Linked DNA regions of Homo sapiens: region 1 is linked to region 2. The links come from fine-mapping of genetic effects on gene expression. A gene starts in region 2. The other region holds a variant in brackets. All regions are shown on one strand. Distances are from middle to middle.

The links. PIP is the estimated chance that this variant, and not a neighbour inherited with it, causes the effect.
Region 1: its variant is fine-mapped to the expression of FAM228B in whole blood (INTERVAL, PIP above 0.99).

Annotation. Positions count from the first base shown.
Region 1 is chr2:23,753,296-23,769,634 of GRCh38, reverse strand. It overlaps ATAD2B (ATPase family AAA domain containing 2B), which reads left to right. Exons shown (of 28, transcript NM_017552.4): 23 at 4,007-4,129; 24 at 7,289-7,426; 25 at 11,534-12,217; 26 at 14,861-14,988; 27 at 15,328-15,456. Among named protein-coding and RNA genes, the nearest start is that of ATAD2B, 170 kb to the left of the region's middle. The variant A/GTGTA (reference allele first, on the strand shown) is at 8,938.
Region 2 is chr2:24,117,659-24,133,997 of GRCh38, reverse strand. FAM228B (family with sequence similarity 228 member B) reads right to left here and starts at 10,529. Exons shown (of 11, transcript NM_001145710.2): 1 at 10,465-10,529; 2 at 9,538-9,668. The coding sequence starts at 9,636. PFN4 (profilin family member 4) reads left to right here and starts at 10,664. Exons shown (of 5, transcript NM_199346.3): 1 at 10,664-10,880; 2 at 11,451-11,579; 3 at 12,698-12,835; 4 at 14,316-14,421. The coding sequence starts at 11,463. RefSeq lists an enhancer at 9,778-10,027 and a silencer at 10,098-10,597.

The sequences.
Region 1 (16,339 bases), 360 kb after region 2:
AGAGTAACAGGAACTATGATGCACTGTGGTAGGAATGTAAAATGAAACAGCTGACTTGGAAAACAGTCTAGAAGTTTCTTAGAATGTTTAACATATGTATTATAGTCATCCCTCCATATGTGTGCTTTGAAACCTGTGGATACAAAGGGCTGACTGTACTACCTCATTTTATTTATTTATTTATAAATAAATAAAGAGACGCTGTCTTCCTCTGTCACCCAGGCTGGAGTGCAGTGGCGCTGTCTCGGCTCACTGCAACCTCTGCCTCCTGGGTTCAAGCAATTCTCTGCCTCAGCCTCCTGAGTAGCTGGGATTACAGGCGCCTGCCTCCACGCCCGGCTAATTTTTTTGTGTTTTTATTAGAGATGGGGTTTCACCATGTTGGTCAGGCTGGTCTTGAACTCCTGACCTCGTGATCCACCCACCTTGGCCTCCCAAAGTGCTGGGATTACAGGCGTGAGCCCCCGTGCTCGGCCACTACCTCATTTTATATGAGAGATATAAGCATCTGGAGATTTGATATCCAAGGGGAGATGGGGTCCTAGAACCAATCCCCTGCGGTTGCTGAAGAACCGTACCTATCATTTGACCTAGCCATTCCACCCCTTAGTATTAACCCAAGGAAAATTAACGTGTATATTTCCATACAAAGGTTTGTTCATCAATGTTTATAGTGACTTTGTTTATAATAGCCAAAACTCAGAATTATCACTAATGTCCACCAGCATGTGAATGGATAAACAAATTGTGTTATACCCATATAATGGATTAGTATTCAGCACTAACAAATAACGAAGTACAGATACATGCAAAAATAGGGACCAATAATTATTTTTATGCTTAAATAATTATGCTGAGTGAAAGAATCCTGATTAAAAATATTCTTTGTGATTCCACTCGTATATATAATTCTAGAAAATATAAACTGATCTATAGCAAGAGAAAGCAGATCCTTCATTGCTTGGGAATAGAGGGCTGTGAGGAAGGGTGAAGGGAGGAAAATCAAGGGTCACAAGAAACTTTTGGTGATGATAGATATGCTCATTGTCTTTTTTTTTTTTTGGAGACAGGATCTTGCTTTGTTGCTCAGGCTGGAGTGCAGTGGTGTGAACATGGCTCACTGCAGCCTCAACTCCCTTGGGCTCAAGCGATCCTGCTGCTTCAGCTTCTCAAGTAGTTGGGACCACAGGCATGCACCACCATGCTTGCCTAATTTTTGTACTTTTTGTACAGGGTGGAGCAGGTAATGGGAATGAGTCAGAGTGGAGACACGGTGGCTCGCCATGTTGCCCAGGCTGGTCTTAAACTCCTGGGCTCAAGCAGTCCTACTACCTTTCCCTCCCAAAGTGCTTTGACTACGGGCACGATCACTTCCCCTGGCCCATTGATTATCTTTATTGTTGTGGTAATGTTATGGATGTGTACTTACCTCAAAATGTATCAAATTGTATACTTTAAGTATGAGCAACTTATTATATGTCTATTATGCTTCAATAGATCTATTTTTAAACTTAGGGAAGTACAATATGTTAATAATGCAGATTACAGAATCATTGTGGTTTTTGTTCATAAAGAGAATTGTTGAGACACATATTCATGTGCTTACATGGTATCTCCATTGGGATATTTTTTAGGCATCTCCAAACTGAAATGCCTGAAGCTGAACTCTTTGAGATTACTCTCTAACTTCTTTTCCTCCTTTCCTCTCTATTCTGTTTTTTTTTTTGTTTGTTTTTTGTTTGTTTTTGCATCTTTATAAATAGTATGTCCGTCTCCCCATTTTTTATGCAAGAAGCTAGGAAATCATCTTTGATATTTATGTTACCCTCTTATCTACTTTATCACCAAATTGTGTCATTGAGAGCACATTTCAAATCTGTAATCTTGTCTTTCACCACCACCACCACCATTACCCCAGTTCAAGTCATCATCCTCTCTCACTAAAATAAAGCCTAGTGACTATGCTCCCTGGTGTTATTCTTGACTCCCCTCAATCCAGTGATCAGAAAACAACCACAGCAGATCTTTTCAATGATTTTCATTGCTCTTAGGATACAATCTGAAATCCTTTCAATATGATCAGTTTCTCTTTGCCTCTTGCTTATTATGTTCTGACTACTGTTATAAATAGTTTCAGTACCTCAAAAAGCACTTGAATATAAAATTTTCTTTTTAATTCTCAGCAAGGCAAGTTTTTCTATAGAAGGGTGCACCCTTACAGATGGAGTAATGGTGGGCGCCCACTTGGACAAGGGAGGGGAAGGGTTTATTATCCCTGATGCATGTGGCCCCCCACTGCTGTGTCCTTCTCCTGTTGGCTAGGGTTAGACCACACAGGCTAAACTAATTCCGATTGGCTAATTTAAAGAGAATGACGAGGTAAGTGTTTTGGCGGGAAAAATGGTTATGACAGAGCAGGTAATAGGAATGAGTTAGGGTGGAGTAGGTAATCGGAATGAGTCAGGGTGGAGCAGGTAATTGGAATGAGTCAGGGTAGAGCAGGTAATCGAAAAAGGTTGCTTTACGAGGAAGTTAAGTTTAAAAGTAGAAGGCAAAGAATTGAACATACTGACATATTGATTCTTTGAAAAGAAATTTAGAACTCATAACACTACACTGGCTGCATTTCAGTTTCTTGAAATCTCCAAACTCTTTACAGCAGGATTTTCTCACATGGTATTTTCTGAACCTGCACTAGTTGTTTTTTTTTTTTTCCCCCCTTACTCTTTCAGTAGCTACTCCAGTCTGTGCTTCAAGTGTCAGTTTAAATGCCTGTTCTTCAGAGAGTCTTCTTCCTGACTTGCTCAATCTAAATTGGAACCCACACCAGTACCCTGTAGGTTTTCTTCATAGCTGTTTTTCAGGGTGTTTTGCTTTTGGGTTTTTTCTTTTTTGGAGGGAGGAGGTGTTAATTTGGATGTATGAGAGATGATTTGTTCCTGTAGTGGTCTGAAAAAGTCCTTGAAAGTTGATATCATGTATGTTTTGTTCACTGCTGTGGGTGGCCACCATCCAGCTTTCCCTGGTGCAGTCGACAACATTTGTTGAGTGAATGTTTAGAGAAAATGTGTTGGAAGTAAATATCAGTGGTGCCTTTGAGTGGTGCATGTTTGGTTTTGTAAGATTACCACAATGAGCCATAATAACTTTCAAATCAGAAAAGTTATAAAGTGTCTCTGTAACTTTGTCTATACTGTTTGCCCTTACTAGAGAGGAAAAAGCAAATGTTGTTTTGCAACTCTGGATTCTTGCTCTTGATACTGTTAGAATATTAGTTACCTTGATATATTACTTGCCTTTTCATATTTCTGAGTTGCACAGATCTAGGGGGCACTGTTTATATTGTATTGTTTATGAATGGGAACTTCTGGATTAGTGTGAAGCAGAGGCTCCTCTTTTAGTACCATTTTTAGGCATAGTTTACCTGGAACCATGTTTATGCTTCTCTCCTGGATCTACCTACAATGTATACACCATCTTGTGCCCTTTAGCTTAGAAAGTCTTTCTGTATTTCTCTGTTTTTGTCACATTTAAAAAAAAATAAGTCACCTTTAAAATATATTGTATTCTTTAGCATAGTTTTGACCAATGTCAACTTAGGAGAAATTTAAGATTTTTTTGAATTCCTAATATTAATCTCTGACAACTCTGGGGCTGGGCATTTGGTGAATATCCTCTAAATACTTTTTAAATTTTTACTGAAAATCACATATTTCTGTTTTCAGAAATTTGAAACCATGTATCTTTTTCTTGTAATTCTCCAGACTGCTTCAGAAATGGTAATAGGTTTAGTCCTTTGAGGTTCTTAAAGTATAATTTTCAGAGAATTACTAACTTGACTGAGTAGCTTAGTATATTTATTTTTTTACCCATACTTTAAATAAACTTTTTCTCACCTAGCAATGCTTTTTATAATTTTGTTTGTATTCTTTTACTTTTTAAGATGTCCTTTGTTAATGTTATTTTATTTGTTTCTATAATAAATATATACCAACTTTTTTAACAGATAAAATAATTAGGCACAGGGCTTGTACCCTGAAGGACACTGCACATGCTATCATTGCAGCTGAATTAGATCCAGAATTTAATAAACTTTGTGAGGAAATTAAGGAAGCAAGAATAAAAAGAGGTAAGTTGTAGAAATAAACTTGGTACTGAAGCCTAGTGTGCTCTGTTCAGGCCAAGAGTACTTGAACGCTGTTTCTTTAGGATTGCTGGTATTATGAAAGTAATGTATTTAATGTATTTATTTAATTTCTGATACTAATGTGTTATGTAAATTCTCAAAGATATTTTACAACTTTACCTACTGTGAAAGTTTTAGTGTGATAGTGTGTATTACAGAAATAAAGTGTTTCTTATTGAAATTTGTTTTGTAGGAGTATATCTTTTTTAAGAATTGATTTCTAAATGGATTTAGATATTAGATATGAAAAGGTTTTATTTTTCATCAGTTTACTTTCTGGTACTTTAAAAACATGTTTAGGTATACTGTTTTTCCCACCCTAGTGAAATTTATATGCAATTTTGTTATTAGAAACACAGAATTAGCAATTGTGGTTTGTCAATTCAGTTTATAATCTTGTCCTTGAGGAACTCACATTTTAGTAGGAGAGAGAGAAATGTAAAACCAATCAAGTACAGTGTGGTGTATGCACTGGTTGAAGCATGTTCAGAGCACAGAGATGAGACCTCCCAGTAGGGAACCCAGCATTTTGATCAGAGTAAGGAGTGAATATAGAAGTGTTCTCTCTAATGGACTAGGGAGGCAGTGATAGAGGAGGAGGAGGTGTATTGCACACAGAGAAAACAATAGCATATGTAAAGGCACAGAGGTGTGTTAAACTGGTATTGCTAAAGAAATACAGAATGCTGGAAATAGGGCTCAAGAGGTGCGGGGTCTAGGACACAAAAATTATGAAGAAACTTTTCTTCTACCTTTTTAGAGAGCTCTTCCCTGACCACCTAATCTGATAGAGGCTTTGGTAGCATTTGGCATTATATTATTTGTTTTTTGATCGTGTCCTCCTTATTTAGGATATCAGCACTTTGAATGTCTTGTTTATATCTCTGCTCCAGTCCCTAGAACCCCATCTGGTATAAAACAGGTTTTCGGTAAATATTTGAGTAAATCAATGCCATGCTAAGGAGCTTGTGATTTATCTTGTAGATCAGTGTTTTCAAAAATGTCTGCCTATTACCCACTTCAGCTTAGACCTATGAATTAGATTCTCTGAGAATATTAAGGCCAAGAAATCTTTATTTGAACAAACTATCCAAGAGTTTTTATGTACACTAAAGTTTGATAGCCATAGGCAATAGAAATCATTGAAGGATTTTAAGCAGTGAAATGAATTGGTCGAATTGCCTTGGCGGGAAGAAGTAACATGGTTTCAATGTGCCAGGGTAGGAAGATGAAAGATCAGTTTAAAAGCTGTTGGAGCCCATTTGAAAATGGTTTGGCAATTTCTAAAAAATTAAACATGGATTTACTGTATGACCCAGTGATTCTACTCTTAGGAATCTACCCAAGAAAAATGAAAATATATGTCCACATAAACATTTGTATGTTCATAGGAGCATTGTTTATAATAACCACAAACTGGAAACAACCCAGATGTCTGTCAGCTGGTGAATTGGTAAAGAAAACATAGGATACCCATACAAGCGCATACTACTTAGTAATAAAAGGGAACAAAGTACTGTTACACAGTACAACATGGACGAACTTCAAAAACATGCTGGCTGAACATGGTGGCTCACGCCTGTAATCCCAGCATTTTGGGTGGCAGAGGTTGGAGGATCGCTTGAGCCCAGGAGTTTGAGACCAGCCTGGGCAACATGGCAAGATACCATCTCTACAAAAAAGTGAGAAATATTAGCTAGGCGTGGTGGTGTACACTTGTGATCCCAGCCATTTGGAAGGCCGAGTTGGGAGGATTGCTTGAGCCCAGAAGGTTGAGGCTGCAGTGAGCCATGTTCATGCCACTGCAGTCCACCCTGGGTGACAGAGCAAGATGTTGTCTCAACAAAAAAAACCCCAAAACATTATGCTAAGTAAAAATAGCCAGACCCAGAAGACTACATATTGTATGATTTCTTTTATATAAAATGTCCAGAAAAGGCAAGTCTATAGAGACAAAAAGTGGAGTAGTCATTGCCTGGGACAGTTATCCAAAATTGGATTGCTGTGGTGATTTTACAATTCTATACATCTACTAAAAACTATTTATTGTACACTTAAAACAGGTGATTTTTATGTTATATAAATTGTATCTCAGTAAAGCTGTTGGGGAACAAAAACCTGTTGGAGTAGTCCAGGGTTTTAATTAATGAAGTAGGAAGGGAGTTAGAAGAGATTAATATAAGTGAGATGTAGCCGCAGGGATGGAGAGCACTGTGAAGTGAAGGAAGAATAAAAACTGGCTGCCATATTACTGGTTGAGTGACTTAGTAGATACTAATACTCCCAATCTAGATAGGGAATCTATAAGAACAAACTGTTTTGTTTTGTAGGGAAAGATAAACCAGTTATCTTTAATTTGATCTATCTTTAGGAAATTCAGTTGGAGATATGAAGTAAGGAGTTGTATATATGGATCAGAAGTTGTATATCTGGATCAGAGATGTTTGGGCTAAAGATACAGATTTGAGAATTATTATATAATAGTAATTGAACCTGAACACAATGATACTTCGCTGGGGAATGTGTAGATTAGAGTAAGAAGAAAAGTGGTTACAGAGAGAACCTGGAGAAAAACCAACTTAAGGACCACATAGAAGAAATAAATCTCTAGTGAAGAAAATTAAGATAGAATGATTAGTCTTAGGAATATAATGCAGGACAACCAAACTGACTGCAGTGTGGTGCGACAGGAAGCAAATAGCATTTTGAAACAGTTCACGGGAATGGGGTTTAGTAGCCCAGTAGACTGTTGTACATTCTAAGATGGCAGAGGTCATTATTTTTGGATAATATATAATCTTATTGTTCCACAGTCATAATAATGTAAAATGTGCCTCTTTGTGAATTAAAATGAATAAAAATAGGGCCCCTTTGGGGATTAAGTGTAAACATGGCCTGCCAGATTGTTTTATTTTTATGATTTTATATCTAAGTTTCTTACCCATCTTAAAACAAAAGACACTGCTTTCATTGGAACTGCAAACTGCCCTAGTATAATTAATGACTTTAAAACTCAGTTTTGTATTTGAGATTTTTTTAAAAACCTTTTGGTTTATGTAGCTGGGAATATTTAAAGAGGTATTGCTTATCTTCTGCTTGCAGGCTTATCAGTAACATCAGAACAAATAAATCCTCATAGTACTGGAGCTCGGAAGACAGAAACTAGAGTCGAAGAGGCATTTCGGCACAAACAAAGAAATCCAATGGATGTGTGGCACAACTCTGCAAATAAATGTGCATGTGAGTATTTCAGCTCATGTTATCCAGTAGTGAGAACAACTGAGAATGATGTAGATATGTTAGGAATTGGGTACAAAACAAAGTGCCGCTCTTTTCCCATAGCTCTTTTAATCTCTTTTCAGAGGTGAAGAAGAGCTTGTGAGGTAAATGCTGAATCAGAAATATATTTCTTTAACTTTATTTGTTATTTTCTATCCCTATTCAATATTATTTGCTATGACAATTGAACTAGGCTTGAATATTTTCAGTTTTAAACTTTGGTTTTTGGATAGCCATGTGGAGCCAGTAGAATTTTTATATGCCCCTGTCCTTATCCTCCACTCCTTGTACACTATGCAGGATGTTCTCTTTAGGGTGGGAAATGGACACTCCCGCATGTGGGTGTGTCTGATCTGGCAACAGGAAGTTGATTTTTCTGAGAGACTATTTTGTGTTCAGTTTGAAAAATTGGCACAGCCTTCTTTTCTTTGTAGTTTTTGTGAGATGTATTTAAAGGGAAAATTGGGAGTTTTTTTGTACTCATTCATGTTGATCTATAACATTTCCAAAAGTCAAATGTTAATAAACACTGCGTCTTTCTAATAGAGTTCTTCTGTTTCACTAAAGATAGCCTTCCTTGGAAGATACATGCTGTTTTTCTGGTATAAAGGTGATAATCCAGGTTAAGTATCCCTTATCCAAAATGCTTGGGACCCAGAAGTGTTTTGGATTTTGGATTTTTTTTGGATTTTGGAATATTTGCATTGTACTTACTGGTTCTGCATCCCTAATCCAAAAATCAGATATCTGAAATGCTCCAACGAGCAGTTACTTTGAACGACATGTCAGTGCTCAAAAAGTGTTGGATTTTGGATACTCAACCTGAACTACTTTGTCAGTAAAGCTAGCTATAATATGTTGTTTCACCAGTGGCATTGAATTTGAATGAATAAACTATACCCACCTTTTTAAAGCTTGTCCCCTTTTGGTAAGTGGCATTTGTATATGAGAAAGTTTGAGAAAGGACTCGATGATGCCGTGAAACTGATTAAGCCTATTTGGCCTAGTTGTATTTCAGATCATGACTTGGATTGTGTAATGTAGTACTCTAATTTAAACTTTGAAATTCTTTACATTCTATGCATCTGCTACAAATATTTATGAATGAAAATACATTGACTATTCACTTGAAGAAGTTTTAAGTGCCTTTAAATATTTTAAAAACTTTTTGAATCTACAAATATGAGTTTTGTTTTCTCTTACCAGTAGATGGCATATGCGACCCATAATTTTTCTGTTTTACATTAACTTAAATAAGAAATCTGAATGTCCCTAAGGCGTAGTTGCTTTCCTAAGGCCTTAGTTTTGGAAACAAACTCAGTGATGCTATAAAAATTGACTCTAAAGATCGTGTCTCTAAATGGACTTTTCACACAGAGCACCCCGATGAAGGAAGTGGTGTGTGTGTGTGTGTGTGTATGTGTGTGTGTGTGTGTATATGTGTGTGTGTGTGTGTGTGTGTGTGTGTGTAT[A/GTGTA]TATATAAATTTATTTATTTTTTTTTTTTTTCTTGAGACAGAGTCTCTCTCTGTTGCCCAGGCTGGAGTGCAGTGGCTCAGTCTTGGCTCGCTGCAACCTCCGCCTCCTCAGGTTCAAGCAATTCTCCCACCTCAGCTTCCCAAGCTACTGGGACGACAGGCGCCTGCCAGCACACCTGGCTCATTTTTTTGTATTTTTAGTAGAGATGGGGTTTTACCATGTTGGTCAGGTAGGTCTCGAACTCCTGACTTCAAGTGATCCGTCAGCCTCGGCCTCCCAAAGTGCTGGAAGTACAGGTGTGAGCCACCATGCCTAGCTGGAAATGGTATATTAAGCATTAGGTCCACAAATACTAATATATACTCTTGCCACATGCCAGGTACTGTGAAGATACATCAGTGACTAAAACAAAAATCTCTTCTTGTGGAGCTAATGTGGTCTGTTTCTCTTATTTTGCCAAAATTATACCAACCATTAGAAATAATTATATAAGGAAGAGAAAAATACCTCCAGTCCTACTTCCCAAAGATTAAGACCATTTTCTCTTACCGTATTAGCCAGGTCTATCCTGCAGTAACTTGCTTCAGCAGGGCTCCCAGCCTTTGCTTATGTACTGCATGTCAGGTAGTTGAGGTGACTCCTGATTGAGCAGAGTTCAGCTTCATTTTGCTCTAGTTTCATGGCTTAGGAAAGAAAAAGGGAACCTATTGTACTTTCAGTTACATGGTTGCAGAATAAGAGAGGTTATGGTGTCAGGAATGGCCTGTCAGGTAGTAAAAGCCTAATAGCGCTAACTTGCAGAGTCAGAGCAAGCTGAATGCTTTTTATTTTTTATATGGACTAGATTAGTTTTTCTTATAGCTAATGGGATGTTTACAAATGCCCATCACCTGAGCCTGTGTACCAGATTTTAACAGTAGATTAATACAGAAATTTTCTTCTCTATGCTAATTACCCTGTAACTTTAAATTATATAAATAGAAATTAATAGGGGAAAAGAATGAAGAGTTAGTGCTAACAGGATTACAGTTTTGAAGGAAAAATACATGTTGAGCCAAATGACTCAATAACCTGAATTTTGGAGATGATTTCAGAAACCTTTAGGAGATATATTCTTAGGTAAGAAAGAAGAGTAATATTTATAACTAAATTTATCTATTTCTTGTGAATTTACAGAGATGCAGCAGGAATTAAAGATGAAAGGATTAAATAAGTATGTAAATACACTACACTGTTGATAGATTCTAAATTCATATTAAGCAGTGTGAATATAAGAAACAAGGGTTGTCATTAAAAGACCATATTCCTTTCTGTCTCTATAAAGCAATTTTTAAACTACAGATTAAACAGCCTACAGTTAGTGATTTCATATTTATATTTTCTTTAAAAAATATCTTTGCCCAGGAAGCTTTTCAGCTTTGATGTATTAAACATATATATTGTCTTTTTTTAAGTTAAAATTATTATGTTCATAACCACAGAAAAAATGAATATTTTTATTCTGATACTTTCAACAAACTAGTATTTAGAATTTGGGGTTAGATACCAGAAGTGATTCAGCTCTAGCATAAGTGGTTTGCTTTAATAATTTTTGTATTTAAGTGTTCTGAAGAACACTTAACTGTATTATGCAAGTGTCCCAAATTATAAAAGTTAACTTTTTGTTTATTTAAGGGACAATGAGGTAGACTTGCTTAACCATCTACCTCAATTTGATACATATGTGAGAAATTAAAAATTCCAGGGTCCATTAATACCTAGAGGCCCTAGCTGCCTACTCATAAAGCTCATGATAGTTTCTAGCATCTAAGAGTATAGTCCTTACAACTTTTGTAGGCCTCCCTTTTCACATAAGTGACCAAGTATTTATTTTCAGTGTTTTGTTTATGTTGTTGTTGTTGCCTTGATAGCAGAGGGCTTAGTTTTCCTACATATTCTCAAATAACTTTGCAAGAAATTGATGCTGCTGGGTGAACTGTTTGTGCTAGAAGAGATTAACAGTTGGCTCACCAAATTGTCCAAATAACCTTCATAAGGCATCTATCCATGGTCATACTTAACTTTGGGTGATTCCTTTTTCTGGAAGGAGAGGTTTCTTTGTGAGGATACCCTTAACTGTTCTGTTATGCTATATTGAATCATGTCTTTATTTTCTTTCATGATTTAGGAGCTACCTTTTGCTAGTAAAACATCCACCTTCCTGGTGGAAATCCAGGGCTTTGGCCCCAAACTTTCTGGCAGCCTGGTAATGTGGTCATTCTTTAAATGTGTATATTATATGCGTGGCTTTTGGATGTTGAAAATTAGGAACAGTAGTAAAGTAGGATCTAGGATAGTAGAAAAGATTAGTGCTGAATAAACTCATACAGGAAATACATTAAAAAATGTTTTATTCTGCAGAGTTCATCCCTGACTTCATATCCATTCCATTTGTAGGTTGCAAGGATTAGTCAGCATGAATGTCAAGAGCTAAGTAGTTTTTGTGTGTTACATCAGCATGGGTTTACTTTCTTTTGGGTCCTGTTTAATAAACATATGTAAAATTGGTATTGCATTCCAAGTTCTACATATCTTTTTTCCTTCCTTGTAAAACAGTTCGGGTTCGGAGAAAATCAAGGCGGAGATCACAGTGGGGTAAAGGAATTATTAAGAAAAGGAAAGTTAATAATTTAAAAAAAGATGAAGAAGACACCAAATTTGCAGACTATGAGAACCATACGGAGGACAGGAAATTATTAGAGAATGGAGAGTTTGAGGTAAGCACTGACTGCCATGAGGAAAATGGAGAAGAGACTGGAGACTTATCTATGACCAATGATGAATCATCCTGTGACATCATGGACTTGGACCAGGGGCAGAGGCTTAACAATGGAGCAGGCACAAAAGAGAACTTTGCATCTACTGAGGAGGAAAGTTCAAATGAATCTCTACTGGTCAACAGCAGCAGTTCCTTAAACCCGGAGCAGACCTCCAGGAAAGAGACTTTCCTTAAAGGAAATTGTCTAAATGGTGAGGCTTCCACTGACAGTTTTGAAGGAATACCAGTTCTGGAATGTCAGAATGGCAAGCTTGAAGTAGTTTCTTTCTGTGATAGTGGAGATAAATGTAGTTCTGAACAAAAGATTCTTCTGGAGGACCAGTCAAAAGAAAAACCAGAAACTTCGACTGAAAATCATGGAGATGATCTTGAGAAACTAGAGGCACTGGAATGTAGCAATAATGAGAAGTTAGAACCTGGCTCTGATGTGGAGGTTAAAGATGCAGAACTGGATAAAGAAGGTAGAGCTAATATTTGAAAAATCTTCTGAAGGTTTAAACTCCAGAGTTAATTCGTTGTGTATTTTATCTGGTTCCCAGTAGTAATAGTTGATGAATAATTATACCCCTCTGAGAATATGTTAAAGTTTTCATCCTATTCTCTAGAAAAGCACACATGTGTGCACGTACACACACACACAGAGGCATGCACCAAATTTTGCTTTAAGTTTCAGAGGGTGTATCGTTTCGAGTGCATTGCTTTACTGGCCGCTTACTCTTCTGCCTCCTGCCTGATTATCACCCCTAGCCTCAGGGATTTATGACTGAAAGCTGAGTAAATCCACAGGTGTTAAGAAGATGGAATTCCAAGAAGAATTATTGGCATGGGCTGGGTGTGGGCAGAGAAGACTTAGTGATAATAGCAGTATGATATATTCGGAAGAGTAATATAGACCTAGATTAAATTACCACTCTTGTTCATTATAATCATGTGACTTTCAGCTCATTATTTACACTCTCCAAGCCTATTTATTCATCTAGGAAATTCAACTTCAGAATGGTGTTGCAAGGATTAAATAAGTCGTGTATTTTAATTGCCTCTCGTGGTAACTGGCACATACTAAGGTATATTCATTCCAGGAAGTCATTGTTAATTGAATCCAAGGGCTGTTCAGTCTAAAAGCCTTCATTGCTTTATAAGTCCAATAGTGGGGGAAAGAAGCAGAGCAATCATTGTCAAGTTTACCTTGTTCTCAGGGAATCAGAGTACTCTCCCAGCTTCTGACTTCTTATGGCTACATGATTCATTTAAGAAGCAGCAGAAAGAGGGAGTTAAGGGTTTCTAGCCTGTCTTTATCATTATTCTTTAGCCCATAGCAGGGTCTGGGATGAGTTGATATCTACCCTGCTCAATATACATTTCCTTCCTGGATAGGTACTCTTATAGGAGGCTATCCTAAAATTATATTATTTTCTCTAAATTGTGTGGAGTGGAGAACACAGCTTCAGCCTGGGATTTGGGCTATGTGGGAAAATTTTTTTTTTTTCTGCCAGTATTTTAAGTCCTTTAGCAGAGTTAGGAAGCAGGAAAATATTATTCAAAGTCTAAGAATTCCTTTAATGGATAAAGAGAAATTTACTGTTCTTAAATGCTACCTGTTAAACATTTGTCTTATTCTTCAATATTTAATACTAAAATAGTTTTCAGAGCAGTATTCATTCTGGGCTATCAGATAGACAGAACTTTAAAAATATGTTAAAGCTAGGGTTAAGTAATGAATATAACAGCATGGGAAAAGTGGAGAAGGAATCTGGTATGAGGCCGAATGGGTGGGGATAGAGGAGTCTATTTTAATGCTGATTTCTATGAGATTTCCATAAGCGTGCTGAAAAAGGCTTAAATTAATATTGTGTTCAGTTGGTGATCTAAACACTATAAAGATAATTGTTGTGTAAAAGTTTGACCTGAAGCTTTCATTTGGAATTATCAGGACAGTATCCTAATCTGAGTTTTCAGGCCTCTAGAAGTCCATGGATGTAGTAATGAGGATCAATATGATTTTAACAAAACTCCTAGCATATGGTAATTGAACTATGAAGTCTTTCACATTAAAAGCAGCCTGAAATATAAAATTTCTCTGATATATCATGATACATGTTTTTGAAGGCAATACTTTGGTTCGTTTGCTGTTTGTTTTATAAAGCAGGCATTGAGAAGGAGGATGAGTTTAAAGACTTGGGAGTAAGAAATAAGAGGACTAATGTAGGATGGAGGCGGGTCCCTGCATTGAGACACTTAATAAATATGTTCTCCTTAGTGTCCCTGACATGGGCCACATCCTGTATGAAATTCTGAAACAGTCCAAGTTTGTCTTTGTGTTCCTTCCCCTCACTCATCCTCCTCTTAAGAGTAGTCCTACTTAGGGGAGCACAGGGCTCCATGGTCTACCCACCCTTTGTACCCCTCAGAATGCCTGGGTTCGTGAAATTATGCTTAGCCACCTTAAAATTTCTGTTTGTTTAGTGTGGCTGGTTTCAGCAAAATGTGAGGAGGAAAGTAATTAGATTACACTAATTTACTCTAAGGTAGGAAAGAACACCAGCCCTATTACACTTTTAATGGGTTTATATTTTTAAGAAAAAAATGTTAAACTCTGAATCAATTTCTAATAGAATTTTAGGCAGTGTAACAGACAAGAAATTTCAGGCAATGCTGAAGGGAATGTTTTAGGTTGGGAGGCAAATGTGTAGACAGGTGGGCCCCACTTTTGTTAGTATCTGCTTTTCTAGGTTGCTTCCCTTCTTGTGGTTCTGAAAGCTCCCAGTTGTAAAATGGTAGCTGTCATAGAGTGAAGGCTGTTTGTTAAGTCAGTGCTTAGAGGTGAAGATTGCTTTTATCTTCCTTTTAGTGGATATGCTTATTAGGTGATACTTTAGTATGACTTGGCTTTTTAAGTTGTAGTTTAGTTTTCTTTAATTTGGGTTACTTAGTCTTACCAATAAAAAATCTACCACATTGGGTTGCTTTAAAAAAAATCACTTAAGAATACACCCTTCCTCATTCCAAAAGGGATTTGTGTGGTAGGTAAAAGAATTTATAACTGCTTAAGACTGGTTTTTCTTAACTTTTACTTGCTGCAGTGTATTTTTTTGTCTCAATTATAGGTGCTTCTAAAGTAAAGAAATACCGTAAATTAATTTTAGAGCAGGCAAAAACGACAAGCCTGGAACTGGTTCCAGAAGAGCCATCTGAGCCTGTGCCTCCTCTTATAGTTGATCGTGAGAGATTGAAGGTAAGCTTAGCTATTCCCAGTCAAGTTTTAAATGAATGGACGGAGATTTGAATGTGTTTGTAGGCAGTTGAGTAAAAGTAGTTTTCCTGCTTTAACCCTGAAATATAAATGCCTCAGAGCTCCTAGTAAAAAAGAGTTATGTGTATTTTAAGGAGTTGAAAGATACGGGAGTAGTCCAAGATATTCTAAGGGAATGATTTTAAGCCCTCAAATCTTTTAATTTCATGTTCACTGTTACATCCTCGCTTTATGGTGTTTATTGACTAGCCATTTGAATATACAATTTCAGTTTGACCAGTGAAATCAAATTACATTTTATTCTTTTCTGTTTTTTCTTAGAAATTGCTTGATTTGTTGGTGGATAAAAGCAACAATCTGGCAGTTGATCAGCTTGAGAGATTATATTCTCTTCTTAGTCAGTGTATCTACCGTCATCGTAAAGATTATGACAAATCACAACTTGTAGAGGTAAGTGTTTAGTTTATCTGTAGAATAAACAAATACTTGATTTTACTTGTTCCAAAGAAAAGAGGAAAAAAAGTTATTTTGCCTACATCTATGTCTTTTACCAAGTAGCTGAAGAATGTTTTGAAGATTTAAGACAAAAATCATTAAGAGTTACAGTTTGAAGAATAAAGCCTTTCTGTACCATTTTGTCTCTGGAAAGAAGTAATCTGGGGTTCCTTTTTTTTGTCAAAACACAGAAATCCATGGTTCTAGGGTGGTAAATATACAGAAATAGTATGTCACAATTCTCTCCCTACTTGCTTATAACTGACGTGCCAATTGAGCCTGTCACTTGGGCTTGTCGGATGTGGTCATGGCCCCACACTCCTTATCACTGCTTCCTAGGTAGCCACTGCTGATATAAAGGCGTTGGCATGGGTAGTGAGACCTATTTGCCATTAATGGTTGGAAGATAACTCAAAAGTCATCTTATTTTGGTCAAATCTAGTCCTATAAATTAGCCATATGAAGGAGCGACTGTCCTTTTGCTGAGATACTTTTAGAGATGAGACATTCCCTTTCTAGACAACTCTAAACCAAGGGAAATTCTTCCTGTATAAATATGAGCTTCTATCTTTGTTTATATAATTTCCATCATTAAACCACACTTCTGCCTTTTCAGGTCATCTGAGCAAATGTAATCACTCATCTACCCACAAAATGGCTAAATGACTTAATTCAACTCCCTTTGTTGATTTGCCTGTTAGTTTGTTTATCTGGTGGTCTATCTATTAAATGTTTATTGAGTACCTGCAGTGCCAGATGCTGTGCTGGGTGTTTGGAATGCAAAAAATGAGTAAGACAAAGTCTCTGCTCTCAAAGAATATTTTTAGTATATTAAAGA
Region 2 (16,339 bases):
AATATAATTGGAACAAATTTATTTATCATTAGTGAATATGGCTATCAAATAAATATTAATAAATTTTATTTTTAATGTACTTATTTTGGAGACAGTCTTGCTCTGTCACTTAGGCTAGAGTGTAGTAGTATGATCATAGCGCACTGTACCCTCAAACTCCTGAGCTCAAGCAATGCTTCTACCTCAGCCTCCCAAAGTGCTAGGATTACAAGCATGAGCCACCATCATGCCCAGTCAAATCCTATTTTTATATACAAGTCACATTTTCAGATTTTGAAATAACACAATCTTTAGGGAACAGTGATATTAGTGACAAAATTATGACAGCATTAATTTTTCCATTTTTATAACAAATGTTCCACAATTATTAAATACCTGCCAGAAAATGGAAGCAGTTGATTTCTAGCACAGAATTGCCTTTGAGATCCTCATGTAATTACATACAAATAAAATATTCTCAAGTTAACTGTCAGTGAAAGTAGTTGTCTTCAGTCCCACTGCTTTTATTTCCAGGACAGATGAGTAAAATCTCATTATCTAAGAACTGTCCTTCCCCATTAACATCCAAAGAAGCCAAGGCTCATGGGAGCTAAGCAACAACTAGAAGCATAGAAAACTCAAATGAGTCTACTCTAGTTTGTTTTCTTTGTTATTTTTGCCTCATAGAGTTGCCCTTCCTGGAAAGTCTGTACTCAGATAGGGGGTAGTGAATTAACATTCCAGATAAAAAATATAAAAAACAACAACCTGAAGACACTGGAGAGTGATCAAAAAGCAGGAAGTTACTGAATGCTATTCAACACCAAGAAAAAAAAACAGCACTAGATGAATTTCCAGTTTTTTATTAACTTGCCTGAGAAAGGGCCTTAGTCTGAGGTAAAGGAGGTGGCTAAAACTCAGATAGAAACATGCGGCCTAACTGGTTCAGGAATTAGAAGACAGAGTTTGGGGTAAGCATGGGAGCTGGAAGGTGAGAGGAAAAATACTGGAAAAGAGGGAGCCAAAGAAAGGATGCCACAAATTCTGCAAAAGAACTCTGACCAAATATCTGGCAAACTCTTGAACTGTATATGCATAAGGCAGACTCCATGTAGCCCAGCTTAAGATAAAAAAAGACTAAACCGTGACTTCATCTGCTGCCAACTTCAGGAAAGACAAGTTTGGAGATTGAGTTCAGCAAAGATAACTGCTTCCTAAAACAAAAGCTCAATATTCTTCAGAGGAATATAACAGAATCCAGACCCTCCACAATGTATCATTCATAATGTCCAAAATGTAATCTAGAATTACTAGATATATAAAGAAACAGAAAAATGTGATCCACACTTAAGAAAAAAACAATCAATGGAGACCAACTCTGAAATGACCCATATGTTGGAATCTAGAAGAAATGGATAAATTCCTGGACACATACACCCTCCCAAGACTAAACGAGGAAGAAGTCGAATCCCTGAATAGACTAATAACAAGTTCTGAAATTGAGGCAGTAATTAATAGCCTATCAACCAAAAAAAAAAAAAAAAAAAAAAAAAACAATCCCAGGACCAGAGGGATTCATGGCTGGATTCTACTAGAGATACAAAGAAGGGCTCGTACCATTCCTTCTGAAACTATTTCAAACAATTGAAAAGGAGGGACTCCTCCCTAACTCATTGTATGAGGCCATCATCCTGGTACCAAAATCTGGCAGAGATACAACAAAAAAAGGAAACTTCAGGCCAATATCCCTGTTGAAGTACAATGCGAAAATTGTCAATAAAATACTGGCAAACTGAATCCAGCAGCACATCAAAAAGCTTATCCACCACCATCAAGTTGGCTTCATCCCTGCGTTGCAAGGCTGGTTCCACATATGCAAATCAATAAACATAATCCATCACATAAACAGAATCAATGACAAAAACCACATGATCATCTCAATAGATACAGAAAAGGCCTTCAATAAAATTCAACATCCCTTCATGTTAAAAACTTTCAATAAACTAGGTATTGATGGAACATATCTCAAAATAATAAGAGCCATTTATGACAAACCCACAGCCAATATCATACTGAATGGGCAAAAGCTGGAAGCATTTCCTTTGAAAACCAGCACAAGACAAGGATGCCCTCTCTCACAATTCCTATTCAACATATTACTGGAAGTTCTGGCCAGGGCAATCAGGCAACAGAAATAAATAAAGTGTATTCAAATAGGAAGAGATGAAGTCAAATTGTCTCTGTTTGCAGATGACATGATTCTATATTTAGAAAACCCCATCATCTCAGGCCAAAAGCTCCTGAAGCTGATAAGCAACTTCAGCAAAGCCTCCGAATACAAAATCGATGTGCAAAAATCACAAACATTCCCTATACATCAACAACAGACAAGTAGAAAGCCAAATCATTAATAAACTCTCATTCACAATTGCTATAAAGAAAATAAAATACCTAGGAATATAGCTAACAAGGGATGTGAAGGACCTCTTCCAGGAGAACTACAAACCACTGCTCAAGGAAATAAGAGAGGACAGAAACAAACGGAAAAACATTCCATGCTCATGGATAGGAAGAATCAATATCATGAAAATGGCCACACTACCCAAAGTAATTTATAGATTCAATGGTATTCTCACCAATCTACCATTGACATTCTTCATAGAATTAGAGAAAACTACTTCAAATTTTATATGAAACCAAAAAAGAGCCCATATAGCCCAGACAATCCTAAGCAAAAAGAACAAAGCTGGAGGCATCACGCTACCTAACTTTAAACTATACTACAAGGCTACAGTAATCACAACAGCATGGTACTGGTACCAAAACAGACATATAGACCAATGGAACAGAATGGAGACCTCAGAAATAACACCATACATTTACAACCATCTGATCTTCGACAAACCAGACAAAAACAAGCAATGGGGAAAAGATTCCCCTTTAATAAAGAATTCCTTTAATAAAAGCATTCCCTATTTAATAAATGGTGCTGGGAAAACTGGCTAGCCATATGCAGAAAACTGAAACTGGACCCTTTCCTTACACTGTATACAAAAATTAACTCAAGATGGATTAAAGACTTAAATGTAAAACCCAAAACCATAAAAACCCTAGAAGAAAACATAGGCAATAACATTCAGGGCATGGGCAAAGACTTCATGACAAAAATGCCAAAAGCAATTGCAACAAAAGCCAAAATTGACAAATGTGATCTAATTAATCTAAAGAGCTTCTATACAGCAAAAGAAACTATCATTGGAATGAACAGGAAACCTACAGAATGGGAGAAAATTTTTGCAATCTACCCATCTGACAAAGCTCTAATATCCAGAACCTACAAAAAACAAACAAGTTTACAAGAAAAAAAAATCAAAAAGTGGGCAAAGGATATGAACAGATGCTTCTCAAAAGAAGACATTTACATGGCCAACAAACACATGAAAAAAATCTCAACATCACTGATCATTAGAGCAATGCAAATGAAAACCATAATGAGATACCATCTCATGCCAGTCAGAATAGTGATTATTAAAGTCAAGAAACAATACATGCTTGTGAGGCTGTGGAGAAACAGGAGCACTTTTACACTGTTAGTGGGAATGTAAATTAGTTCAACCATTGTGGAAGACAGTGTGGCGATTCCTCAAGGATATTAGAACCAAAAATACCATTTGACGCAGCAATCCCATTTCTGGGTATGTACCTAAAGGAATATAAATCATTCTACTATAAAGACATCTGCACATGTATGTTTATTGCAGCACTATTTACAATAGCAAAGATATGTAACCAACCCAAATGCCCATCAATGATAGACTGGATAAAGAAAATGTACATATACACCATGGAATACTATGCAGCCATAAAAGGGAATGAGATCATGTCCTTTGCAGGGACATAGATGAAGCTGAAAGCCATCATACTCAGCAAACTAACACAGGAACCAGAAAACCAAACACCGCATGTTCTCACTCATAACTGGGAGCTGAACAATGAGAACACATGGACCCAGGGAGGGGAACAACACACATCAGGGCCAGTCGAGGGCTGGGGGTGAGGGGAGGTGAGCATTAGGACAAACAGCTAATGCATGCAGGGCTTAAAACCTAGATGACAGGTTGATAGCAAACCACCATGGCATATATATACCTATGTAACAAACCTGCACGTCCTGCACTTGTATCTCAGAACTTAAAGTAAAATAAGAAAAATAAAAAGAAAATTATATTGACATGAAAATCTGAAAAAAAGAAGACAAGGATTTGAGGACAGTTATGATAGCTATGCTTAAAAATATGCTTATAATTAATGAATAGAAAATCTTAGCAGAGAATAGAAATGATAAAAAACCAAGTGGAAAATACAGTTCTTAAATTTGAGAAATAAACAAACCTCAATGGGTTAGTAGCAGATTAGAGATGACATAAAAATAGTCAGTGAACTTGAAGACAGACTATTAGAAATTACCCAATCTGAAAAAAAAGGAAGAATAAAGATTAGAAAATAATAAACAGAGTCATAGTGACCTATGAGACAATATCAAACGATTCAGCAAATGGATAGAGTTGCAGAAGTGAGGAGTAAAAGAATGGAGCAGGAAACAACTGTTTGAAAAAATAATGTCTGGATGAGAACTTTCACTTTTGAACAAGACAGAGTAGCAGGAAACAGACTTACTCTCCCACCTGAAACAACTAAAAAAAAAAAAAAAAGATAAAATAGATGAAACAACAGTTTCCAAGATATCGAACATCAGGCAAAGAAGAACAGTGGCCCCTGAGAAATAGAAAACAAACAGCCCAACTGTCTGCCTGAATTGAGGAGTGGGGATGGGAGTCTGGAGAGGCCAGAGCAGTTGGAGTTCATAGGTTAGAGTACTAGAGGGAGGAGAGCTACAAGAAAGATGGAGCTCTGGAGAACTGCAAAGGGTCAACCGCAGAGGTCCCCTTGAGTCTTCAGCTGATCGTAAACACTACATGCCCAAAGGAACAATGGGCAAAGAAACACCTGCAAGAATTAGGGAATCAATCCCTAGAGGTCACACAGTCCCAGGAGTGTTTGTTCCCTTTAGCATCAGCCAGAGGAAAAAAAAAAAAATTCCCATAGTTTGAAGTGCATAGAGTAGAGTATTTGGAGAGGTTTTGTATCAGTACTGAAACAAAATTGGCCCTACGGTAGATACTGCTGTGGTCCTGTCAAGCAAAACTCGGAGGCAAGACCTGAAAGAATCCTGCTGTGTCCAAGTAACTTAACTGAATCCAAGGGGAAAAATGAAAAATATTTATGGGAAATCTGTGCACTTGTACTTAAAAAAAAAAGAGTATTTATAGCAAATCAAAAATATCTAGTACTCAATATGGTTAAAATTCACAGTCTTGCATTTAATCAAAAATCATCAGGCATACAAAGAAATAGGAAAATTTAACCAATAATCACCAGGTATACAAAGAAATAGGAAAATTTAACCAATAATAAGAAGGAAAATTAACCAAAACTGCCCCCAAAATGACAAAGACACTATAATTATTAAACCAGGACATTAAAAGTTATTATTCCTGTAGTTCATAAGTTAGGGAAGCTAGAAGACTAGACATGTTGAGACAGAAAAAAATGTTTGAAAAAGAGCTAAGGGCCAGGCATGATGGCTCACACCTGTAATCCCAGTGCTTTGGGAGGCCAAGGTAGGAGGATCACTTGAGGCCAGGAGTTCAAGACCAGCCTGGGCTACATAGAGAGATCCCGTCTCAACAACAACAACAACAGCAACAAACCAACAAAAAACGAAACAAAAGAATCCAGATAAAACTTCTAGGGACACAAATTATACTTGAGATAAAAATATGCTAGGTAGGTTTATTAGCAGATTAGACATTACAGAAAGTTAGTGAACTTAAAAGCATAGCAACAGCAGCTTTCCAAAATGAAATGCACGGGGGAAAAACTGAAGAAAATTACCAGAATATCAGTGAGCTACAGGACAATTTCAAGCAGGTTATTGTACATACAGTTGTATTTCCCAAAAGATGGAGGGAATAGAAAAAATAATTTAAGAAATAGGCCAGGCACAGTGACTCATGCCCGTAATTCCATCACTTTGGGAGGCCAAGGCAGGCGGATCACTTGAGGCCAGGAGTTCAAGATCAGCTTGGCCAACATGGTGAAACCTCAACTCTTCTAAAAATACAAAAATTAGCTGGGCATGGTGGTGCACATCTGTAATCCCAGCTACTCGGGAGGCTTAGGCACAAGAATTGCTTGAACCCGGGAGGCGGAGGTTGGAGTAAGCTGAGATCATGCCACTGCACTGCAACCCGGGTGATAGAGTGAGACTCAGCTGAAAAAAAAAAAAGAAATAATGGCTGAAAATTTTCCAGATTTGTCAGAAACTATAAACCCACAGATACAAGAAGTTCAATGAACTCTGAGCAGTGGAGAAATTGTAACTTTCATACATTGCTATGAAAATTTAAAACGGTATCACTGCTGTGGGAAACAGTTCAGCAGTTCCTCAAAAAGTTAAACATATAGTTACCATATGACCCAACAAACAATTCCACTCCTAGGTTACATACCCAAGAGAACTGCAATCATGTTACCTAAAAAGTTACACAAAATGTTCATAGCAGCATTATTCATAACAGCAAAAAAACAGAAACAACCCAAAAGTCCATCCACTGATGAAGGGATAAACAAAATGTGATACTGAGACAATGGAATATTATTTGGTCATCAAAAGGAATAAAGTACTGCTTATGCTCTGACACGGACAAACCTTGAAAACATTATACTAAGTGAAAGCAGTCACTAAGGACCACATATTGTATGATACCATTTGTATAAAATGTCCAGAGTAGACAAATCTGTTTAGACAGGAAGTAGATCAGTGTTGCCAGGAGCCAGAGAGGGAGGGGAATGGGGGGTGACTGCTAAAAGGTGTGAAGTTTCTTTTTGGGGGTGATGAAATGTTCTGGAATTAGATAGTGGTGACAGTTGCACGGATTTGTGAATATACTAAAAAACACTGAAAATAAAAATTCTGAATTTAAAAAAAAATAAAAAACACTGAATTGTACACTTTAGAGTAGTGAATCTTGGCCGGGCGCCCGGTGGCTCACGCCTGTAATCCCAGCACTTTGGGAGGCCGAGGCGGGCAGATCATGAAGTCAGGAGATCGAGACCATCCTGGCTAACGTGGTGAAACCCCTCTCTACTTTTTTTTTGTAAAAATACAAAAACAAAAATTAGCCAGGTGTGGTGGCAGGCACCTGTAGTCCCAGCTACTTGGGAGGCTGAGGCAGGAGAATGGCGTGAACCGGGGAGGCAGAGTTTGCAGTGAGCTGAGATCACGCCACTGCGTTCCAGTCTGGGCGACAGAGCAAGACTCTGTCTCAAAAAAAAAAAAAAAAGTAGTGAATCTTATGGCATGTAAATTATATCTCAATAGGAAGAGTCCAACAGTAAGAATACAAACAACCCAACTTAAAATTGCCAATTTTAAAGTGGGCAAAAGATTTGAACAAACACTTTGCCAAAGAAGATAGATAAATGGCAAGTAAGACTTGAAAAGATGCTCATAATCAGTCATTAAGGAAATGCAAATTAAAACCACAATGAGATGTCACTATACATCTTTTTAAAATGTCTTGAGTTAAAAAGGCCATACAATAAATCAGTATAAATAAAACTATTCCAAATGTTGGCTAGATTATGAAACAACTGGAACTCTCACACACTACTAGTGGGAATGTAAAATAATTCAATGACTTTGGAAACTAGTTTGGCAGCTTCATAAAGTTAAATTCATTTACCATATGACCCAGTCACTCCACAACTAAATATCTACCCAAGAGAAATGAAAGCATACGTCCATACAAAGACACACACATGAATGTTCATAACAGCTTTATTTGTAATAGCCCCAAACTGGAATCAACCCAAATGTCCATAAACAGGATGAACAAATTGGGATATATCCAGATAAGGGAATAGCATTCAACCAAAAAAGGAATGAAGTATTGATACATACAACATGGGTGAGTGGCAAAATAATTATGATGAGTGAAAGAAGACAAACAGAAGGAAAAGAAATATATACTGTAAGATTCCATTTGTATACAATTTTTAAAATGCAAACTAGAGTGACAGAAAGCAAAGCAGGCTGGGCGCAGTGGCTCACACCTATAATCTCAGCACTTTGGGAGGCCGAGGCGGGCAGATCACTTGAGGTCAGGAGTTTGAGACCAGCCTGGCCAACATGGTGAAACCCCGTCTCTACTAAAAATCCAAAAAAATTAGCCAGGTGTGGTGGCGCAGGCCTGTAATCCTAGCTACTCAGGAGGCTGAGGTAGGAGGATCACTTGAACCCGGGAGGTAGAGGTTGCATTGAGCCGAGATCACGCCAGTGTTTTCCTGGCTGAGTGATAGAGCGAAAGAAAGAAAAGAAAAAGAAAAGGAAAGAGAGAGAAAGAATGAAAGAAAGAGAAAGAAAGAAAAGCAGTGGTGGGGGGATGTGAGGGAGGGATTACAACAGAATATTAAGGAAGCTTTGGGAGTACTGAATATGTCCACCATCTTGATTGTGGTGATGTTTTCGTGTGTATACATGTCAAAACTTACCAAGTTTGTACACTTTATTTGAGACAGGGTCTTATTCTGTCACCCAGGTGGGGATGCAGTGGCACAATCACAGCTCACTGCAGCCTCAAATTCCTGGGGTCAAGCAATCCTCCTGCCTCAGCCTCTCAAGCAGCTGGGACTATAGGTGTATGCTACCACACCTGGCTATTATTGTTCGTTCGTTTGTGGAGACAGGGTCTCAGTATATTGCTCTGCCTGGTCTAGATAGAACTCCTGGGCTCAAGCGACCCTCCCACCTCAGCCTCCCAACGTGCTGGGATTACAGGCATGAGGCACAGTGCCAGACACACACTTTAAATATATGCAGTTTACTGTATATCAATTACATCTTAATAAAGCTGTTTAGAAAAAAGAAACTACAATCTAAAAACAATATAACTGGCTGGGCGCAAGGGCTCACAGCTATAATCCCAGCATTTTGGAACACCACGGTAGGTGGATTGCTTGAGCTCAGGAGTTGGGGACCAGCCTAGGCGACACAGTGTAGAGATTTTTTGTATCTCTACAGAAAATACAAAAATTAGCCAGACATGGTGGCGTGCGCCTATACTTCCAGCTACTAGGGAGTGGAAGGATGGCTTGATTCCAGGAGGAAACATAGCAAGACCCTGTCTCAAATATAAATAAATAAATAAATACATCATATCAAAATTTGGGTGATGCAGCTAAGGCAGTACCTCAAGAGAAACTTATAGCTATGTTACATTTTAAAAGGTATATAATCAATGACCTATGATTCCACCTTAAGATGTTAGAAAAAAACAGCAAAGTGAATATACAAAGTTAGTAAAGTGAAGGGAATAATAAACAGAATGAAATAAAAACAAACAATAGAAAAAACAATATATTTAGCACAAGCCACTTCCTACTGCAACGATCCAAGTAAAAAAATCTCCAAATCCCACACTATTTGATATATACCTCCATAAAACAAAGGGGCTTGGGCTCCAACCATTCTTTTGAGCTCTTGAGCTTGGGAAGTGTGCCAGTTACCAGATCATCACTGTCTACATTTTTCATTGTGGTCACAAATAACAATGCCCCTGGAAAAACTAAAAATCATCTTATTTAGTATTGAACATTTCACAGTCATCTGATTTTCTCTTCTGTTTAATACCACCTGTGTCCTTGCACACACGCAAAATGGATTTTGAACACTAACCATCCAGTTTCCCTAACAAGAGGCCTTCACTACAGACTCCAGATGACGGCTTCAGAGCCAGCCTCCTTTATAAGCAGGCGAGATGCTCTTTGAAAGAATCCCCCGTCCCTTGGAATGGATTCCCACGTCCCCCTCCAAGGCAGCCCATTCCAGCCAGTGTGGCAGCTTCAGCCTGGCCTCTCGGAGTCCCATTTGCAACACTTTTCTGACTTTGGTGGCCTCGAGTGGGAAGAACTGCAACTTTCTGGCCACAGAAACACAGGCTGAGCTGCTTAGAGAAGGCAGGGAGGGGCTTTCGGTCATACTGCGCGAGTCTTCGAGCTCTGAGCGGCTCGAAGTCCTCCCCGAGGCACGGGTGCGACGGGGATGTCGTAGGCGTCCGCACCCGCTCTCGCTCATCGCGCCCACTCCCGGCCCTTCCTCCCACCCACTAGGCCGGGCGCCTGCGGCCTCCACGCCAGCCCCGGGCCGGGGGCCTCCCGCGCAGGCGCGTCGTGCGCGGGGACCGCCCGGCCTGGCGGGGAGGTCGCCGGCCGCGACAGGCACCTCTCTGCCCTCCCAAGGCCAGCAGGCCCGCGGCCGTCCTGCTACACACTCGGGCCCGGCCCGACGACCCCGGAGCCGTCCGACTGCGGCTGGAAGGGAGCCCGCCCGCGTCTGCGGAACGCGCGAATGTTGGCGCCCACCGTCTCCCGGACGCAGCGCCGCGCGAGCACTCCGCCCCCTGCGCCGCGGGTTCCACAGCGAGTCCGCGCGGGCGGTGCCGGGGCGGCGGAGGACGGCTTCAGGCCCAAAGGGGATTGGGCGGCGGCTCTAGGTGGCGGGTCTTGGTTTGCGGAAGGGGCTGGAGTCGCTGCTTCTCGGTGACCGGCGCGTGGCCCGGCCAATCCTGCCGCCGCCACCCACCCGCAACCGCGTCCGTTGACGGTCGGGTCCTTGGTCGCCGGGTCCTTGCGGGCACCACAGAGCGGGGTGGCGTCCGCTCCCTCGAGTCCTCGGTGCCAGGGAATTCACCGCTCACCACCCCCTGCCCCGCCTTGGGTCCTGCTCGGGGACCAAACCACTGGAAGGCAGTGGCGGGAAACGGGCGCCTGTGCCGGAGGTCCTGATGAGGGGGGTCCAAGGCTTGGGGACTTGTGCGGGAAATGTGGGTTTAAGTGCCTTCAAGGTGTTTTTAGTCCATTGGGATGTTGATCAGCGTTCATAGCTGGCGCTGATGCAGGTCACCGGGAAGGGAATGTGTGGGTTTATGGCCACGCATAATCTCTTTTAGTCGTGTTTAACTTAGCAGGGTAGCTCTCCATCCTGGCTGGGTTTTGTTTTTTGTTTTTATTTTTTATTTTACAGAGTTTTTCTCAGTGTGTAATGTTTGTTTTTAAATCGCAGATAATCCTGATGTAAACCATTGACATAGCCAGAAAATCACCAGGCTGTGATTTTCCAAACTCAGCTTCATAACCTATTCTGTGTGAGCTGTGATTTTTCTATGATTCTGTTTTCCTCTTTGGGTACTGGTGGGCCCTGAATGATGGACCACCGTTTTCACCCTGTACCTTTTCAAAGTACACTTGCTGATCTTAGAACTGTCTGCAGTGTCTTAAGGACATTTGTATTCACATGCCTTTTAAAAGCTAGCCAGAGTCAATGGCTTCAACTGCACTTTCCCTTTCAGAGTTGAGGGAACATGAGCCATTTGCAGAGCTTATTGTTAGACACCCTCTTGGGAACCAAGCATGTGGACAGTGCAGCCCTCATCAAAATCCAGGAGCGGAGCTTGTGTGTAGCATCACCAGGTTTCAATGTAAGAAAAAACAAGTTTGGACCTAAGACTTGATTTACTTATTATTTCTATTCTTCCAAAAAATGAAGCAGACATGACTTTTTTTTTTTTTTGAGACGGAATTTCACTCTTGTTGCTTAGCCTGGGATGCAATGGCATGATCTCAGCTCACTGCAACCTCCGCCTCTCAAGCGATTCTTGAGCCTTAGCCTCCCGAGTAGCTGGGATTACAGGAGTGCGCTACCAGGCCCGGCTAATTTTTGTATTTTTAGTAGAGATGGTGTTTTACCATGTTGGTCAGGCTAGTCTCAAACTCCTAACCTCAGGTGATCCACCTGCCTCGGCCTCCCAAAGTGCTGGGATTACAGGCATGAGCCACCGTGCCCAGCCCAGACATGACTTTTAAATGAACTTTTTCTGTAAAGAGCTACATAAATATTTTAGGTTTCTAGGCTTAGTCTTTTTACTGTTGATATAAAGGAATACCTGAAGCTGGGTAATTTATAAAGAAAAGAGGTTTATTTGGCTCACAGTTCTACTGCCTGGAAGACTGGTCATCTGTGAAAGCCTCAGGCTGCTTCCACTCATGGCAGAGGTGAAGGGGAGCCAGCATGTGCAGAGATCACAGTGGGGGAGAGGAAGCAAGAGAGAGCAAGTGGAGAGGTGCCAGGCTCTTTCTAAGAGCCAGCTCTCCTGGAACAAATACAGTGAAAACTCACAGCTTCCCCCAGCTCGCAGGGAGGGCATCAGTCTATTCATGATCCAAATACCTCCCATTAGGCCCCACCGAAAACGCTGGGAATCAGATTTCAACATGAGATTCAAACTATAGCACAGGGCCGTAGAGTCTCTGTCACAACCACTCAACTCTGCAATTGTAGAGGAAAAACAGCCATACATAAAAGAATGAATGTGACTGTGTTCCAATAAAATTTTATATTTATGGATACTGAAGTTTGAATTTCATATAATTTGTAAGTGTCACGAAGTGTTATTCTTTTGATTTTTTTTCCCCAACCATTTAAAAACATGAAAACCATTCTTAGCTTGCAGGCCATAAAAAACAGGTAGTGGGCTAAATTTGGCTGGCCACCAGCCATAGTTGGCTGACTCCTGCTCTAACCATGTAACCTCTCCAGGTAACGCCCAGTGATGTCCGAACACTGGTGAATGGATTTGCCAAGAACCCTTTGCAAGCCCGAAGAGAAGGACTGTATTTCAAGGGAAAAGATTACAGATGTGTCCGGGCAGATGAATATTCTCTTTATGCCAAAAATGTGAGTGCTCAAGATTTGAAGAGAGCTGAGTAAAAGAAAAGAATTTGCCTCCAAATTTCCTTGCTCTGCCTGATCCTTTCTGTAAAACAGATTAAATCCATTAATGTCTTGAGCCATTGTCTTGAGATAGCAGTCTAGTGCCAGGAAGACATATGTGAAAGAAAGTCCTATCAAGAGCCTGGTTTTGAGAAATGTTCATTCCAGAATCTATTAACTGAGCCTTGCCTGAACTCTTTCCAATACAGTCCCACCTTCATACTCTACATCCTCCTTTAAAAAAAAAAAAAAAAGAGATAATCATTTCTGTGCTTAAAACATTTCTCAGTGGCCAGGCACAGTGGCTCACACCTGTAATCCCAGCACTTTGGGAGGCTGAGGTCAGGAGTTCAAGACCAGCCTAGCTAACATGGTGAAACCCTGTTTCTACTAAAAATACAAGAAAATTAGCCAGGTGTGGTGCGCCCTTGTAATCCCAGCTACTTGGGAGGCTGAGGCAGGAGAATTTCTTGAATCCAGAAGGCAGAGGTTGCAGTGAGCCGAGATCGTGCCATTGCACTCCGGCTTGGGCAACAAGAGCGAAATTCCATCTCAAAAAAAAAATTTTAAAAAAAATCAGCTCTCTGTTGCTTATAAGGAATGAAAGAGATGAAAATCATTCATTGGATGCCCTATATTATGGGTTAGGCATGCTGCTTCATCCACATTATAAACTAAATAATCTCATTTTACAGATGAGGACACTGAGGCTTAACAAGGTTAAATAACCCTTACTCATGCAGCAGAAAAGGAGGCACTAGAATTCAAGCCCAGAGCTGTCCAATTCCAAAATGTACGACCTTTCCATTACATCAGTTTTGTTTTGTTTTGTTTTGTTTTGTTGTTGTTTTTTTTTTTGAGACGAGTTTCACTTTTGTCGCCCAGGCTGGAGTGCAATGGCACGATCTCGGCTCACTGCAACCTCCACCTCCTGGGTTCAAGAGATTCTCCTGCCTCAGCTTACCGAGTAGCTGGGGTTACAGGCGCCTGCCACCACGCCTGGCTAATTTTTGTATTTTTAGTAGAGATGGGGTTTCACCATGTTGGCCAGGCTGGTCTCAAACTTCCAACCTCAGGTGATCTTTCTGCCTTGGCCTCCCAAAGTGCTGGGATTACAGGCGGGAGCCACTGCACCCGGCCTACATCAGTTGTTCTAATTGGGATGGGGTATATGATAATCAATTGCAGAACTTTTTCAAAATCCATCTACCATTATTATAACAGTCTGAAACTTTTTGAGGAAAGGCAACTAAATTGGTGGAAAAGAGTGGACAGTCCAAAAACAGATATATAAACATATGGAAAATATATACGGAATATGTATATTCCATATATATTCCAAACATATGGAAATCAGGAAATGGTGAAAAACGTAGCTGGAGCATGACCACTGGTCCTGTGATTAGAACCAAGAGCAGAATATTCTCTTATATTCTTTATACAGGAGAACACTGGTGTGGTTGTCGTGAAGACCCATCTGTATCTTCTGGTAGCAACTTACACTGAGGGCATGTATCCTAGCATCTGTGTGGAAGCCACAGAGAGCCTGGGTAAGTTGGCCTCCTAGTTCCTGTCTTCATTCCCTATGTTAGTTGGGTCTTCCGACTACGAGTAACAGAGATCCAACTCAAACCAGCTAGGGCAGAAAGGAGGAATTTATTGGAAGGATGCTGAGGTTATTTACATAGCCACTGGAAGGACAGGGTGCAGCTGAGCCATGGGGAAGGTAGATTCAGGGACTGGAACACTGCTAGGATTCTGTCTTGACTTCTAAATGAGTCAGCTTTGTTCTGTCTCATAGCAAACTGTTTCCTTTCCTGGCTGATATCATGGCCAAGCCTCCCATAATACCCCTTAATTTCTCTTAGGACCCTGATTTGGCAAGTTTCAGGTCATATGGTTTACCCCTGTATCAGTCAGCTATGTAGGTGGGGCAGGATAGGGGAGGGGGGAGACAGCAGGGTAAAAAGGCAGAGATGTGGCTGCTGGGGGTCTACCCTATATAAAGAGACATTTTACAGGAAAAGGAATTACTGTGAGTCAGGCAGCCACTTTGTTGGTATATACTGCATTCCCCCTCCGTGTCTATACATTTTTGAATAAAGATCTCATAGAGAACTAGCTTGGGTATTATATCGGTGAGAGTTGAGCTTAATAAATGGTAAATTGTGTTTGTGTTTAGATTTTTCAAAATCTAAATTTAAATTTTAAAAAGTTTACTGGAGTTGCATAAACACTCCTTTGAAACAGAAGCCTCTAGTAACAAAAGCAGCCACTCATTCATTCATTCATTCATTCAACAAACATTCAGAGGTACTTACCATGTGCCCTGCACTATCCTAGATAAATTAGGGAAGCAGAGCTGGTTAAGATATAGCTTCTGCCTTCCATGCCTCTGTACATGCTGTTCTATCTGCCTAAAATATTTTCTGTTTCCTTCCTGTCCCTCACATCTATTCTGCAAATTCCTAATCATCATTAAAGAACCAAGTCAGATCTCAGGCTTCTATCCATTGTGGTATGTATTTTATGCATACCTTTATGATTATCCCCATTACAGTTCTTTGTTTATCTAGATTGTGAATCCCTGGAAGGCATTTGTCTTGTCTTAATCCTTCTTTTTCTCCATTACCTAACACAGTGTCTGATGTTGGGTAGGCAATTAGTACATGTTTGATGAATAAATCAATGAATTACTTCGGCCTAGCAGAGTCAGGGAAGGCGCCAGAGAGCTGAATCTTAAAGGGCCAATTGAGAAATTAAGTTTATCACAGAAACTATATACCTATGTACAGATATGCCTCATTTTATTGCATTTTGCATTATTGGACCCTTCCTGAACAGATGTCAGGATTTGAAGGAGGCTCCATTTCAGAATTGTAGGGCAGGAGCAGAGAGCAGAACAGAGACATAGAGAGCCAGGTTAATTATCTAATTAAAATAACCAGAATATGAGATTAGAAAGATGGGCAATTTGGCTGTCAGGAAGCCAGGCTCTTACCCTGTCAGCTAGGGCTCAGGGCTAATTCCCCAGAGGAGACCAGATAAATTGCCTGACTACTGTAATGTAGGTCATGTGGCTGGCACTAAAGGTTAGTATTCTTGCTTAGGGCCACAAAAAACTCCACAGACTCCAAAGAATGTGCCCTGGTTAGAAGTGCACTGCTGGCATCACGCCATTAATATCCCACTGCTCTGGGAAGGGACAGCTATCTTGGAAATGGTCGTATGATCAGGAAGGATGGACAAGGCTGATATCCACTCAGGAGCCAGTTGTCTTATGACTGACTTTTGTTTCCTTTACTCCTTTTTAAAAAAATATTTTTCTCTATCTAAAAAATTATACGTGATCATTGTAGAAAATTTGGGAAGTAAAGAATTACAGGCCAGATGGGGTGGCTCACACCTGTAATCTCAGCACTTTGGGAGGCCGAGGCAGGTGTATCACTTGAGGTCAGGAGTTCAGGA